Homo sapiens: one gene and its partner. The protein of the gene in region 2 purifies or fractionates together with the protein of the main gene of each other region. This does not show direct contact. Each region holds a gene or a part of one and is shown on either strand. Other genes may lie near its edges.

Evidence for each region.
Region 1: the proteins of GIPC2 (region 2) and SH3BP4 purify together in Homo sapiens (affinity purification with mass spectrometry; 3 studies listed by BioGRID and IntAct, with this or other methods). This does not show direct contact.

Annotation. Positions count from the first base shown.
Region 1 is NC_000002.12:235,044,485-235,053,392, reverse strand, and holds part of SH3BP4 (SH3 domain-binding protein 4), read right to left. Parts: intron 832-8,908; coding exon 643-831; intron 1-642. UniProt on the Homo sapiens protein: May function in transferrin receptor internalization at the plasma membrane through a cargo-specific control of clathrin-mediated endocytosis.
Region 2 is NC_000001.11:78,041,993-78,048,965, forward strand, and holds the start of GIPC2 (PDZ domain-containing protein GIPC2), read left to right. Parts: upstream 1-3,973; 5' UTR 3,974-4,102; coding exon 4,103-4,342; coding exon of another isoform or gene 4,343-4,492; intron 4,493-6,973.

The DNA.
Region 1 (8,908 bases), on a different chromosome or scaffold from region 2:
GGCTTTGTGCAAGAGTAGGTGCGCAACAAATGAATAAACAGAAAGGACTTCTCTTTCCTTACAATCTTTATGGCACTTTCTCTCTGTGCCATTTGTTTGGAAATTCATCCCATTCATAAAAGACAGCTTTGTCCTTGGGACTTCCTGCTTCCTGGATCTTGCAAGCCTGAACCGTCTTCCAGGAAGCTTACTAGGGTGCCCTCCACAAACATGCGAGAACACAAAGGACCTCTGAGCAAGAGCCCGGCCACACCGGCTTTGGCCCAAGTTATGTAACATACCAGGTATCACTCCAGTCCAGAGCGGCTCACAAAGTCCTCTGTGTATGTGTTATTGCATTATTCAACCCTACGGATGGTAATTTAAGATCAAAATGAACAAGGGACAGGCAGTTCTGTTTGTCCTTCCCATGTCGTGTGGAACAGCCTTGACATCCTAAAGCCAGGGCTCACGACAACCAATCCGGAGGATGGCTCCCACTCAGTGAGGCACACCCAGTGCTGGGCACATGCGTGCACATTTCCACCTGTTGCACCCTCACAGAAATGCCGCGAGGCAAGACTTTTTATGGCTGCACTGCATGGGTCCACGGAACCCAGGGACAGAGGGGCTCGGTGAGCTCGAAGCTCAGCCGCTGCTCACCTCGCTGTCCACAACCCCGTTCCTGTCCCGGTGGGGAGACTCGTAGGCGTCCATCTGCTGCTTGGAGACCTTGGCCAGCTTCTCAGCCAGCTCCCGCCAGCGCTGGGCCACCTCTACAGCCGTGGTCAGGAGCACAAAGTCCTGGATGAGTCTGACCACCAGGCCCTGGCAGTCCATCTTCAGTAGGGCCTGCAGAGGAAGAGGCACACAGCGTGAGACAGTGTAGGGAGTGGGGCAGGCTCTGCTCCCCGCAGAATTCCAGCAGACGGCGCAGGAATGGCCATGGGCTCTCTATTCTCCATGTTCCCTGGCCTACTACCAAATGTCCCCTGAAATCGATCACTGCCAGGATTCACGGGAGAAAAGAGATGATGTGCAGAGCGTGCCAGGTTCACCAGTGTCTCCCTCCAAAGCCCACATCCACCCAGAACCTCAGAACGTGACCTTACTTGAAAATGGGGTCTTTGCAGATAGAATTAAGATGAGGTCCCTCTGGATTAGAGGAAGTCACCAAGGACTGGCGTCTTCATAAGAAGAGAAAGCAGACAGAGAGGCAGAGAGAAGAAGGCCGTGTGAAGACGGAGGCAGAGACGGGACAGATGCGGCAACAAGCCAAGGAAAAGAAGGAGGGTTGAGCCAGTGGGGCTTAGGAGAGGCAGGCCTGCAACCCCTTCTCCCCCACTGCTTCCAGACGGAGGCCACCCTGGGACCCCTGACTGAGACCTGTGGCCTCCTGAATGGTGACAGGACAGGTGTCTGTTGTTTGATGTCCCTTGGTTTGTGGTCATTTGTCTTGGCAGCCCCAGGAAGCTAACAGACAGGGTGAATATGGATTAGAGTTGTCACCACTCCCACTCTCTGGGGACACCAGAGAGAAACGAATGCATTTCACCAAATAGACACCATAGCCTGAGGCCGAGACGGATGGAGGGCGAGCTGGACCTGCTGAGTGTGCGGTGCTGACATTGGCCAGTTAGAGAGCACCGCGGGTAGAAGGCTGGGGGACTCAGGCAGGGACCACCCAGGGAGAAGAAGACAGAGAACAGAAGAGGCCCTGGTCAGAGACAGGGTGTACCACCAAGAACCACGGTGACCAGGAGATGCACAGACCTCCCCCAGGACTGTGCAACATGAGAAAACGGTTTCCACAATTGGTGGGACTGCTCCCACGTCAAAGCTGCAAGAACTTTCTACTGTGTCTTTAGGACAGGGATTACTAACCACAGAGGAAGTCAGAGGGGAGGTAATAGGACAGACAGCCCTGCTGGGACAGTGAAGTCCCAGCTGAGGCTGGAACAACCACGTGGCCGCCTTGGGACTCAATTCCCTCCTAAAAACGGGGGCTGGATGGGACAGGCATTGAACATATGGCTAATATATCTGGGGGACCCCAGGCTGGGGTCAAACTCACACTTCTGGTTTAAAGAAACAAATCAAATTGGCTAGCACAAGACAGCAGGCCTGCTAGTCCTGTACACTGTGCCAAGTCACATGACTGCCACTGGGTGTCATGCAAGCGACTCTGGCGCCATCCTAATTATAAATGAGGCCACACATGGTTAGCGTGTGGCTCTGAGCCAGTCAGGATGACGTCACCAGGAAGGCAGGAGAGCCGCATGCTGGGTCTGATTCTTGTCTGAGTCTCCTCTGCCATAGAAGGCACAGCTCACCCCCACCCTTAAAGCTTTCTCTCATCCAACAATGGGAAAGGCTTGGCTTCCAGGGCACAGTGGCCTGAGGCAGCCCAGAGACGGTTTCTGAGGCTCCCGTGAGCCCCTGGACAGGCGAGTTGCTAAGAGAAGAGGAAAGTCACCAGTCCTGGCGTTCTTTCTCTCTACGCTCTGTTTCAGCACCTGAGGTTGTCATTTTAGGACTCCAAAGTGTGCTAAAAAACAAACAACCCCCCACCCCCGCCAACCACACCGCTGGTACCGGCGCTCTTTGGCCAACTATTTTGTGCCGATAGCAGGGTCGTCTTGCTAGTGCTCATGCGGTCGGCTGGGCTGCTTACTTCAAAGCGAGCCCAGCTGTTTTAGACTGAGCATTCTAATGTACACTTTATGTTTACCTGGGGGGAGTCTAACAATACAAAAAGGTGACCTTTTTGGCGACTTGTGGCATGCATTAGCCAGAGTAGGTGACTCACGATCCTTCTAGGTGGGCCCCCAGCATCTCAATCCATGGAATTTAAAAAGAACCAGGAGCGACAGATCATTCTGATGCCTCCCTAGATATGAGAGGCTGACAGCTGGCTACCAACGAGGCTGGCCAGAAGGGGGTTTGAGGACCTGGTGGCCGTTTGTTTTTGTAGAAGCTACTAGAAACCCAGGGCTAGGCCAGGAGCGGTGGCTCACGCCTGTAATCCCAGCACTTTGGGAGGCTGAGGCAGGTGGATCACGAGGTCAGGAGATCGAGACCATCCTGGCTAACACAGTGAAACCCTGTCTCTACTAAAAGTACAAAAAAAATTAGCCGGGTGTGGTGGCGGGCACCTGTAGTCCCAGCTACTCAGGAGGCTGAGGCAGGAGAATGGCGTGAACCCGGGAGGCGGAGCTTGTAGTGAGCTGAGATCGCGCCACTGCACTCCAGCCTAGGGGACAGAGCGAGACTCCGTCTCAAAAAAAAGAAAAGAAAAAAAAAGAAACCCAGGGCTTGCTGTGAGCCAGACACTCAGCTCCTCCGCTCCCCAGAGCCCCCCATGAAGCAGAGGCTGAGTTCAACCCACTTTACAGAAGAAGCTGAGAGAGGGGAAGTGGGTTTCACACCGAGAAATGCCAGAGCCAGAGCTGCCTCTGGGCACCCAACCCCAGGTCCTCCCTGCTGTGTGGGCCGCAAGGCATCTGTTCTACAGATAAGCACAGGAAGCCTGCAGACCCCAGGCTTGTCCCGGGTCCCACAGCTGGAAGTGACAGGCGTGGAGGCAAATATGCAAACTTCTCAGCACTCGGCCAGCGGCCTTCCCAATTCCATGAGCCCCACATGGAATTGGGAATTGAACCAAATGTAATACCGGTCTGGATTATGCTTCATATCAACTATTTATATATTTCAGAAGAAGGTCTGTTTCTATTTGAATTTGGATATATTCAAAACAAATTGTTTTAAAAAATTAAATGTTGACTAGATTTGTTTCAGAAGATAAAAGCATACACGTGTGTATTCACGTGTCAGGAGGGTGTGTAGTTAGCTGGTAGGCTGTCAGATCCTAATTTTCTTGCTGTGGTGGCAGCCTCGTCTGTGGTCCTGGGAAGGTGTGCTGGACCACCACAGGGTTTGACACGAAGTCACTCAATGTCCCCAACTCAGCTCTTTCGTGGCTACTCAGCACACACCAAGCTAATCTGGCTGTGTGCACAGCTGCCTGGCTCCAAAGTGGCCTCATTTTCTAGGTAACAGAACAGGTCAAAGTCACCTGCTTCTGACTCGAGTCATTCCTGGTGCGAGTGATCAAAACCGCTCTCTCCCCAGGGGAACTGGGCACAGGTCCCCAAGGTCCTGGGAAACACAGGTGTTCTCTGGCCCCTGGGAAGGAGAGCGCCTGGACTCCATCCAGGGGCAGCCAAGGTCCCATTTCCATGGATCCCAGATGAAAGGAGAGGTCGGCACTTCCAACACCAAGAATGAAGGCATCTCTCCCTCACTCACTTACACAACTTTTACTGAGCCCAGCCCTGGTTTAGTTTGTTACAAACCACCCACACCATCAACAAGGCATAACTGATGCATATTTTTAAAGGACAAATTTTGGGTGCCAACCAATTCTTAGCAATAGAAAAATTTCACAGCAGGAGGCTCTAGCTCTATGAACTTGATCCTTGCAGCTTCCTCTTTTTATGGGCACACAGGTACACCAGGAAACACTCGATGGACTGCTGCACTACCCTGGTTTCAACTGGAATTTTGTTACAGTGAGTACACCATGATTTCAGTCAGGGTGACTGAACTTTATAAAGGGACAGATAGTACTTTTGCCTTTGTGGGACACACGAAGCCTGAAAGCCACAGACGATGCAGATGGGAATGGGTGTGGCTGAGTTCCAACAAAACGCCATTGACAGGAATAGCGGGCCTGGCGGCCAGAGTCTGGGAACTTGCTTCAAGAGATATTCTTGTCCAGCCATGGTGGCTCACCCCTATAATACCAGCATTTTGGTAGGCTGAGGTGGGAGGATAGCTTGAGCTCAATGAGTTCCACACCGGCCTGGGCAACACAATCAAACCTTGTCTCTACTACAGACAAAAAAAAAAAAAAATTAGCTGGGTGTGGTGGCACCTGCTTGTAGTCCCAGCTACTTGGGAGGCTGAGGTGGGAGGACTGCTTGAGCCCAGGAGTTCGAGGCTGCAGTGAGCTGTGATCACACCACTGCACTCCCGCCTAGGAGACAGAGCGAGACCTTTTCTCAAAAAAGGGGCGGGGGAAAATACTCTTATAAAGTACAAAGAAATACAATTTAGGCTTTTTTGCTGCATGTTTATTCCATCCTGCTTCCTTCCCAACATGCCCCAAAACTCGAGGGGAAGCCTTCTGCACATGGCATCTGGACAATGGGCCCATCCTCCTTCCCTCTCCCACATTAACAGCCACAGGCTCTGGCTTTGGGGCTGCCTGGGAGGAATCCCTCAGGACCCCATCCAATGCACACTGTCCATCAACTCCTCCTCTTCTGGAGGTTAAAGTGGGTCTTCTCCCAATCCACAGAGAGTCCCTTCACACCACACCAGTCTTTCCCGCCCCAATGCGCCCCATGCACTTGCTAGCTTCCTTATTTCTGTTAGTTTTCAAGTCTCTTTGGGTTTATTCCGGCCCCCACTCCACTCCCAAAACAACCACCCTCCCTTGCTTTGCATCCCACAGCAACTCCTTCCCTTTCTCATAGAAACTTCTCTACAGAGCCCGACACGCCTATTTCCCTACCTCCCGCAACTTGACCAAAACGCCCCTGCTACAGCCATCACCGACGGCTCCAGGTCACCACACCCCACGGCTTCGTTCTTATGGTGGATCCAGGACCAGTTGTGACAGCTCACTCTGGCCCCTTAGGAAGTTCTCCCTGGGCCTGAGGCCACCGTGGGCTGCTTCTGCTCCCATGGCTGATGGCCACTGCCCACGGCTATCTCCAGCTGACTCCCCTTCCTTCCCCACCATAACAGAGACCATGTGCCGAGTGCTGACAGTATCCCGAGAATTGGGAATAGTCTCTTGCATCAAAAGGGCGCTGCTGAATGACTTTTCTGATTCTTAAAAAGCTGGGTTCCCTTTCAAAGGCCTCTACCACTGCCAGACGCTGCCCCTCCTCTTTGCCTGACGGGAGCCCACCGACCACGCAGTGTTTCTGGCCAGTCTACAGAGGATGCACAGCGAGGGTTTCATGTCCCCTGCTTCGCCTCTGACGCATCAGGGGGCTGAAAGAAAACCCTACCCTTGAATCATGCCACTGCCACCATTTTTTGTACATGGGACCCCTGAAGGAGCACAAGGCTTAAATGTGAATGTGCACATTTCTCCTTTCATAAATACTCATGACTCCCCCTACGGCTTATTGAATATGTATATTTGGCCACCAATATCCATAAATTCTTGTTGCCTTTGCCCCTCCCTTGAAGTGTCTGTTTTTGGCTTCTGGCAGGAGGCTCTGCTTCCCAACCTGTCAGAATAGCCACCCACAGGCTGCAACCCTTTATGAGGAATGAGGCTCTCCTTTCCAAATGAACAAACCTTGTCATTCTTCAGCTGACACCATCACGGACAGAGGCTCTGGTGGGAGAGAAGTGGCCAGGACAGAGGGGTGCTCTGAGTGCAGCCACAGCCATGCTGCTGGGAAGGGGCAGGCAGAGGTACGGGGATGCCTCACACACGGACTCTATCAAAAACAGGCACAAAAAGAATGGAAAGAGGAAATGGAACCACAGAACAGAAGCATGGTATGGCCACGTGAGAATGCCTCCCGCTTGGATTCTTAGCCCAGCCCAAGGCCTGCATTCATTCATTCATTCATTCATCATTCATTCATTCATCCATCATTCATTCATTCAATCACTTATCCATCTAGTACCTCAGTGATTCTTATGTGCCGGGGCCCTTCCTCTCATGGGACCTATGTTCAGTTAGAGTAATAATGAGAAACAAGTGCACAAGAACATAAACAAACTTGTTTCTTTTCTTCTCTTCCTTTATTTTCAAGACAGGGTTTCACTCTGTTGTCCAGGCTGGAGTGCAGTGCTGCGATCATAGCTCAGTGTAGCCTCGACCTCCTGGGCTCAAGTGATCCTCCCACCTCAGCCTCCCAAGTAGCTGGGACTACAGGTGCACACCAACACACCTGGCTGATTTAAAAAAAAAAAATTGGAGAGATGAAGCCTCACTATGTTGCTCAGGCTGGTCTTGAATTCCCGGGCTCAAGCGATTCTCCTGTCTCAGCCTCCCAAAGTGCTGGTATTACAGGTGTGAACCTCCATGCCTGGCCAAAACAAACCGCTTCTGATTCAAGAAACACCATGGAGACAGAGGATGATGGAGTGCGCGGGGCTGCAGAGAAGGACGTCCTGGAGAGACGGCATTTGAGCTGGCAGCTGAGGGAGATGAGGAGGTCTGGGAAAGGGAGCTCCAGGAAGAGGAACAGCATAGCATCTGCAGGAGCTGGAGGCCGGGCGAGCTGGGTGTGTTCAGGGCAGGGGTGCACAGAGCACAGTGGCCCCCAGGGTTGGGATGGGTAGGGCCAGATCTTACACGACTTTGTGGGGCAGGGGCAAAGGCTGACCCCGTTCTAAAGGCAGTGGAGAGAGGAACAACCCAGGTCTCATTTGACTCCTTTTTCCTTCCCATCTCCCTGCACACTGACTGTCTCAAACTCTCACATTTTCCCCATCATTTAAACACTGTTTCCAACCCAAGGCATCAGAACAAGGACACCGAAAGCTATGCTAAAAATGAGAGGCAGGGGGTGGCCTGGCTGTGACTCTCTGGGAGGGGCAGGTAAAGCGGTGGCAGAGGCCGCAGAAATCGTGGCAGCCCTGTGATGACAAGCGGAATAGAACAGCCAGTTTTCAGGGTCTCCTAATAAACGACCTGGGAGAAATCCGTCTGTGGTTTCTATAAGTTTGGCCAAGATGATGACTGACACAGGTGTGGGGGGCGGGTGGGGACACTGCAAAACCAGTTTCACTTTATCACCACAAAATCTAACCTTGCCTCAGGGAGCCGACCTGGCCAAGGGCAAGTTTCACTTCCTCCTTTCTGGGTAGCGGAAGGACTCGGGCACAGAGGACACACCCCTCCCTGGAGCGGACAGGGAGGCCCACCAAAAAATCCCCTCCCAGAGATGCTCACCAATCGAATTGAGAGAGTTTGATCATTTATGTCTTTTGGAAAAAGATAAAAAAGCAGGAAAATGAGTGTAAAAGCCACCTACTCGGCGGTTATTTTCCACAGCTGGTGTGGTACTCCTGGTTGTGTCATTTTTCCACCTCTGGTGCAACGTCGAGGTGAGTGTCCTGGGCTCAGCAATGCTGTCAGGTTCCACGACAGCATGCACAGCCACGGCTGTGGTCTCGGGGCCGCCCGCACAGAGGCTCTCACGGGATGGAGGCGCTTTGTCTGCCACTGTGCTGGGTGCACCCGTGAGGAGACCAGGCCACGGCCCGGCACCAGGTTCTGGAGAGCCAGGAGGTGTGCTCTGAATCACACATGGGTGATGGCTGATGGGAGGGACGCAGGCCATCCCCTCCCTGCAGGTGACCCCACATGGGGGCCCGGAGGCTTCCCTGCTGCGTTTGTTCGCTTCCTCCCCACCCAAGTGCAGTGATTTCCTGGTTGCCAAGGTGGCCCCCCTGACGGCCGCTTCCAGTTCCATCTCCCTCCCCTGGGCAATCTCGTGGCTCCATGCTTCTGGCACTGCACACGACTGCAGGCCACCCAGAGAGGGTCTCACCCGACTCCTGCCCCACTCCTGCCGGGCTGCGTCCCTTCTGTCTCCTGGCTCAACATGGGCAGCCGAGCCGGGTATGTGCCACATGTGACCCTTGCCTGCACACCTGTGTCTACAGGACACTCTGGGCTCTCCCAGACAAACAGGGCTCAATCCAGGGGAGCCGGGGAGGTGGCAGAAAGGCCGGGCACCAAGAAGCACGCCTCTCAGAAGCTAGGATGCAAGAAAGCCTGCGGGCTCAGAGGAACGAGGAAGAGCGGCACACGCCAAGGTCACAGGGTTTTCCCACAGGAATGAACACCAGCAATGCGCCCCTCTCCGGAGGATAGGGGTGGACTCCG
Region 2 (6,973 bases):
GGCTGGAGTGCAGTGGCATGATCTCAGCTCACTGCAACCTCTGCCTCCCAAGCTCAGGCGATCCTCCCACCTCAGCCTCCTGAATAGCTGGGATTACAGGCATGCACCACCACACCTAGCTGATTTTTTTTTTTTTTTTTTTTGGTATTCTTTTGTAGAGACAGGGTTTCACCACTTTGCCCAGGCTGCTCTCGAACTCCTGGACTCAGGCTATCCTCCCGCCTTGGTCTCCCAAAGTGCTGGGATTACAGGCGTGAGCCACCGTGCTGGGCCTCAGTCCTTAGTCTATATTTGAAAATTTTATTTTATTTTTTATTTTTTTGAGACAGTCTCGCTCCGTTGCCTAGGCTGGAATGCAGTGGTGAGATCTCGGCTCACTGCAACCTCCACCTCCCGTGTTCAAGCGATTCTCATGCCTCATCCTCCAGAGTAGCTGGGACTACAAGCGTGTGCCACCACGCAAGGCTAATTTTTGTATTTTTAGTAGAGACAGGGTTTCGCTATGTTGGCCAGGTCCTGGCCTGCCTCTGCCTCTCAAAGTGCTGGGATTACAGGTGTAAGCCACCACGCCAGGCTTCAGTCCTTAATTTTTAACTGTGTAAAAGAATTCTGAGACCAAAAAGTCTAAGAATCACTTGGTACAGTGATTGCTTATCTATGGAGCGAGAAAGTCTTACTAGGGGAAAAATTAAAAAAAAAAAAAAAAAAAGGGACTTTGGACTTCCAGACACTCGACCCTATCAAATCTTTTGCAGATTCATACTGTTGCCTTCACCAAATGCCACCACTGCCATTCTCCCATGGGGGTCATTGTTGACCCAGTCTTTCCCCCAAAGACCAAGAGGGTCTGGGGTTGAATGATGAGCTTCTTCTTAAATTTGAAGAGCCCAAAGGCTGCTAGGAAGGAAGGGGCTGCAACCTCCCCTAGCAAACACCAAAGATCTATCACCTTACGTCCTATAGCTACTTGTGGACAAAAAATGGAACTTTAAGGTACTGCTAGGAAAAGAATGGCATCAGATCAAGTTTTCCAGATAATGGATTCCAACTCCAGCAAGTGGGATAAGAGGTTCATGACACAAATATATTTGTATTAGGTGAATCAATCACCAGGATACCAAGATCGGTTACTTTCACAAACTGCTCTGAGGCAACTTAAATACGGAAGGAACTTCAGAGCCAGCTCTTCGGCTCCAGGCTCCTTTTTAACTACTTATTGTGGTGTGGAAAATATCAGCTTGCTGAGGATTTATCATCTTAATAGAGAGCTCCTTGGGAAGGAAAAGGGTGAAATTTAAAAAAAGGATCTTCATTAAAGAATAGGGAGTTGATTATGTTGCAGAATCGTATCTTCTTGTTTTGCGACACGTTGGAAACATAAACTTTAGAGCTTTTTCATCTCCACTGCACAGAGGTCTGATTGCTTCTGTTTAAAAATGGGGATCTGCTGATGGATTTCAGCCAGCTTCTTCAGGTCTATGTCTGAATACATGATTGTTTCTTCCTTGAGAGCCCTAGCAGCAAAGGTTCACTACAGTGCTGTGTCCCCAGGCAACATAGGAGGCTTTGTCATCTTGGGCAGGAGAATGTGGCCACATACACCTGATTATCAAGAGCCTGAAGCAATTCCCAGTGGGCTGGTCCAGTGGTCAAACTGAAAGCCCCTGGATAAACCAACAGCTGGCAGCCTTTCCGTGTGTAGATTTGTGCAAGCTCTGCAAACCAGTGTCATAGCAGATGCCCCGACTCATTCTGCAGTAAGGAGTATCAAATGTGGAGAAACTGTTGCCTGGACTCAACATTGTGGATTCTTGAAACGTCATTTTTCCAGGAACACCAGTGTTAAGCAGATGGACCTTTCTGTGCTTTACTAGTAAAGTTCCATGAGGTGCAAACACAGCATAGGTGTTATCTAATTTCCCAGCATCCTCTTCAGGGATGGAACCTCTAGTGAGGTTGTATTCCTTTGCTACTTCAGAAAGCTTCTGTGTGGATTTACCAGGAATTTTCGCTGCATATTCAGGAAAATATTTTGTGCCATATGGAGAATTAAAGCATTCCAACAAAGAAACCATTTTGGCTCCTTGCGTTGCTGTCTCCCGGACAAGGCTACAAGCTCGAGTGTTGTTATCTGATTTGATGAAGAAACTTGAAGCTGGATGAGGGCCAAGTGGAAAGTTGCCCTGGCTCTCCTGGGAAGCAACAGCAGCAGCACTGGCTGAGTGCAGGTGTCCCTGTATTACTTTTCTAAGTCACAGAAACATAAAACAAAAATGTTAAAGTTATCCTAAAGTTTTTTTTTTTTTTTCATCTCGCTCTGTTGCCCAGGCTGGAGTGCAGTGGCACAATCTTGGCTCACTGCAACCTCCGCCTCCCGGGTTCAAGCGATTCTCCTGCCTCAGCCTCCCGAGTAGCTGGAACTACCGGCATGCGCCACCACGCCCGGGTAATTTTTGTATTTTCAGTAGAGACGGGGTTTCACCATGTTGGCCAGGCTAATCTCGAACTCCTGACCTCAGGTGATCCGCCCGCCTCCACCTCCCAAAGTGCTGGGATTACAGGCGTGAGCCACCGCGCCGGCCTCCTAAAGAATTCTTAAGACTCTCCTCCCCCAGTACATCTGCTAACCTTAAGTTGAGAAATATGGATTTTCGGGACTGAATTGATGTGAGAGGTGAGGGAAGAGGAAAAATCCTGATACGACGACTCCACAATGTCTGGTCTGGGAGTGCTTGGTGATCCTATTAACTGAAATCAGGAGTAAAAAAAAGAAAAGATAGATGCAGGAGAAATGATGAGGTCAGTTTTGTTCAGTCTCAATTTGGGTTTCCTACAGTACATTCCCTTTCTGGTAGAATAAGCTGGAGTTGGAGACATTTGGTAGACAACAACGTCTGTGAAACCGAGAATGTTGATGTGACCATACAGGAAGAACATGCAAAGCTAAGTAAGAAGGGAAGTTTGTCGAGGAAAAACTGTCGGTGAATGCAACTCCTGGAGACTAGCAGTTAGCAAGGAGCAGGGTGGGGACGGGGAGAGGAGAGGTAAGGAAGCCAAAAGAGGACAAAATTTAAGAAGAATGAAATGGGCAACGCAGACCAAGTAAGATAAAAACCTAAAAGAATTACTTGTATTTGGTAATTAAGATATGATAGTGATTTCACTCCACTGAAATTGCATAGTAAGTGAAATTTCAGTAGTGTGGGGGCAAAGTCTGATCACAGTGCTTCTAAGAGCAGAGAAGTGAGGAAATTTCGTAGCTAATAATTCAAGACTGTTTTGCTTTGTTGTAAAAAGCGTAGTTGGAGGGGACTGGACTTGAAAACAATGCAATAAACGCGAGGTAGGGAATTGAGGGAACTCACACTTCACACCGAATGGCCTCAATTTTCTTTGTACTATATGAGGCAAGGTCCTCTGTAGAGACTAAGAAGGGCAGAGCTGGGGCAAATGGCTTTGGAGGCGTGCTGAATGTTGGGAGAGGAAGCAGCCCAGGAAATAGGCAAAAGGGAAACTCAGAGGTGCCAAGGACCCGGCTGAGGGGGTTTATGAATACAACGTAGCACCAAGCTCAAGGTTATGTGACTTTCTCTTCCAATTCTGCCCTGCAGAGCGTAAGACGCAGAAAATGCAGACGAAGGTTGACTTCTACTTAAATCCCTATCCCCGAAAGTCCAGACGTACGGACCCGAAGGCCTGTGGCCAAATCATGCGTGGGTGCCTACTACAGATTTATGAAAAGCAGAGAAGGGCCAGCGTGTTTGCCTTCTAAGGCGTATTGTTCTGTAGCGTCGGCATCCTCAGGCGTTCACGTAAATAGAGCCATTTTTTACAAGGAGTAGGGATAAACCTGGTGATAGGATGAGGGACTACGTAACTTTCTTTCTCTCCAGATCCATCCCGGGGGAGGCTGGGCGGGCGGGCGGCTGCTCCGGTCCAGGGGTGGAGGTCGGGGCCCTGACCCGACGCAGCCAGGCGGAAGCGCGGCTGCCATTGGAGGCTGCTTTTACCTGCGCGGGGCCCGGGGCGCAAAGTCCGAGGCGCCGGGGGGAGGAGGCGGCGGACGGCAGCGCAGGTGGGCCCGCGCTCTCGGCCCTGCAAGATGCCCCTGAAGCTGCGGGGGAAGAAGAAGGCCAAGTCCAAGGAGACCGCCGGGCTGGTGGAGGGCGAGCCGACGGGCGCGGGCGGCGGGAGCCTCTCAGCGTCCCGGGCTCCCGCACGCAGGCTGGTCTTCCACGCGCAGCTGGCGCACGGTAGTGCCACGGGCCGAGTGGAGGGCTTCTCCAGCATCCAGGAGCTCTACGCCCAGATCGCGGGCGCGTTTGAAATCTCGCCGTCGGAGGTAAGGCGCCAGGTGCTCAGGCTCTCCCGCCTCTCCGCCGCGCCGCGCCGCGCCGCGCGTATTTCTGTGGGCCCAGGAGGGTTGAGCGGCGTTTCCCGGAGCGCGAAATCCGATGCCGTGTTGAGTCCGCCGGGGGCGTCCCGGGGGAAAGTGAGTGTGCCTTCCCTGGAAGGGAAAATTTAACTTGGCAGGACCGCAGAAAGTCACAGTCCCCCTTGCTCCGAGATCTGGCCTTTGGGAAGCGGGTTGAGGGAGGCAACCTTTCTTCCGCTTGCAAATGTGTTTGCTCCAGATGTCCCGGATTCCGCCGGCCGTTCAAGGCGTGAGCACCTTCCCAGACTCGAGATCTGGCGGGGCAGATTAATACCCTCCACTTCATCTGGACTTTACTCTCCTGTTTCCTCCGCAGGCGTGAGAGTCACGCAGGTCATCTCCCTAGATTAACGGGGGAAAAAAAAAATAGAAGTGCCTTGCAGGTGATACCCAGATTAAGTGGGGGGGAAAACATTGAAGAGCCTTCCAGGTAATACCAAACGGAGGCCCACTTTCCCCCAATCTGTCATTTCTAACATCAGCACCAGAAACCCTTTGGTGGTATTTCCAAGAAGTTTAAAAAGCTGGGCTGTTATTCCAAGAGTGGATAACCTAGAGATTCATACTTAATCACGTGGGACTAGTTAACAAAATTTTCATGAGGAAGATCAGCTCTTTTACATCGTATCCTTAAAAAGGGACTGAAATTTGCTTTAATTAGATTTCATGGGGGCCTGGAACTAAGTTTGACACAGGCATGACCTAAAGCACTAGTTTATGTGAACGTTTATGTGACCACTTTATTTGTGCTAACCCAAGTGAACTGCAAAGGTAGGTGTGAAAAGTTAGCTCAACAAAATATTTTGTCCACATTTCTAGGAAAAGCATATAATTTTGTTGCCCTGGACTCAGAGGAGTGCAGAGAGCTGTCTTTGAGGCCTACAGCGGCACCTGGAGTTCTTTAATTAGTTGTTTATCAGGTCTGTTCAAGGGAAATTGAGGTCAAGGCAAAATTCCAAGAGGAGACGAAAGAGAGCTTAAAGTGTAACCCTTTGTTCTTTCGAAGTTCCCAGGCACTAAGGGGCAAATCGCAAACCCATCTGTGAATTATTTGTATTGATATAGGATACTAATAATACTTCACATTTATATAGGATTTTTTTTTTTTCAAAAAACACTTTCACAGGACACTTTCCTTTGATCTCTAGGGGAGGCAGGTGGCAGGTTAAATACGATAACTTGGACATGGAGCCAGGTTCTACCCTTTACTAGCTGTGTGGACTTGAATGAGTTTAACTTCTCTCAGTTTTCGCCATCTGTAAAATAGAGATTAGAATATTTGTCTTGAAGAGTATTGTGAAGAGTGGAGTCCGTATGTAAACGTATCAGATTGCATAGTTTATGGTTAGGGCTTAATACATGGTAACTAATATGATTAATACCTAACAGTTAAATGAAGGACTGAAGTACAAAGTGATTGGCCCTTAGCCAAGGTCACATACCTAGCAAAAAAAAACTTGACTGTAATTTAAACTTGGATCTTCTGATTCCTAAGCTAGTGAGCTTGTTAGCATACTTAACTGACAACTTTAAATGTCTTTGCTGTAACCAGGGACTTCAGTTTTAGTTACAGATGGTCCTGGGTTTATGATAGTTAGACTTAAGATTTTTGACTTCGCCATGGATTTATTAGGATGTAACTTCCTGGACTTAAGATTTTTCCACTTTATGGGTTTATTGGGGTATTAAATGCATTTTTGACTTATGATATTTTTGACTCACAATGGATTTATTGGGACATAACACCTTGGTAAGTAGAGGAGCATGTGTATTTTGCATTAACACTTCTCATCATTATATATGACATTATTCTGAGCTCAAGGTACATGATTTTATTCAATCTACTTAATCCCTAAGAAGTAAGTATTATTATTAATATCCCCACTTCACAGAGAGGAAACAGACTTTGAGGTTCAGAATTTTTCCAGAATTACACATAGCAAGTGGCAGAGCCTGGATTTGAATTCAGTGTATTCTTTTTTTTTGTTTTCTGTTTTTCTTTTCTTTTTTTTTTAATGAGATGGGGTCTCACTCTGTTGCCCAGGCTGGACTGCAGTGGTGCGATTATAGCTCACTATAGCTTCAAACTCCTAGGCTCAAGCAATCCTCCTGCTTCACCCTCCCAAGTAGCTGGGACTACAGGCATGTGCCACCACATCTGGCTAATTAAAAAAACTTTTTTTTAGAGATGTGGTTTTTCTGTGTTGCTCAGTGTGGTTTGAAACTCCTACTCTCAAGTGATCCTCCTACCTCAGTCTCTTGAATAACACAGACACGGAGCCATTGTGCCCATCTTTTTTTTTTCCTCCCATGAAGCTATATTGTTACCCAAGTTTTCCAGAGTCTCAGCAATAGCTTGGTAGCCACGTTCAACATTTTCAGTGCACTGACTTGCAAGGTCAGTTTCCAAGATAATATACACGAGTTGTTTTCATGTGTTAGATCAAAGTTTATAACATTTTATAACCCGGGTATATGGGTAAAACCCCAGTTTTACCATGTTTATGCATATAACCAACATTAATGCAAGTTTTCCAT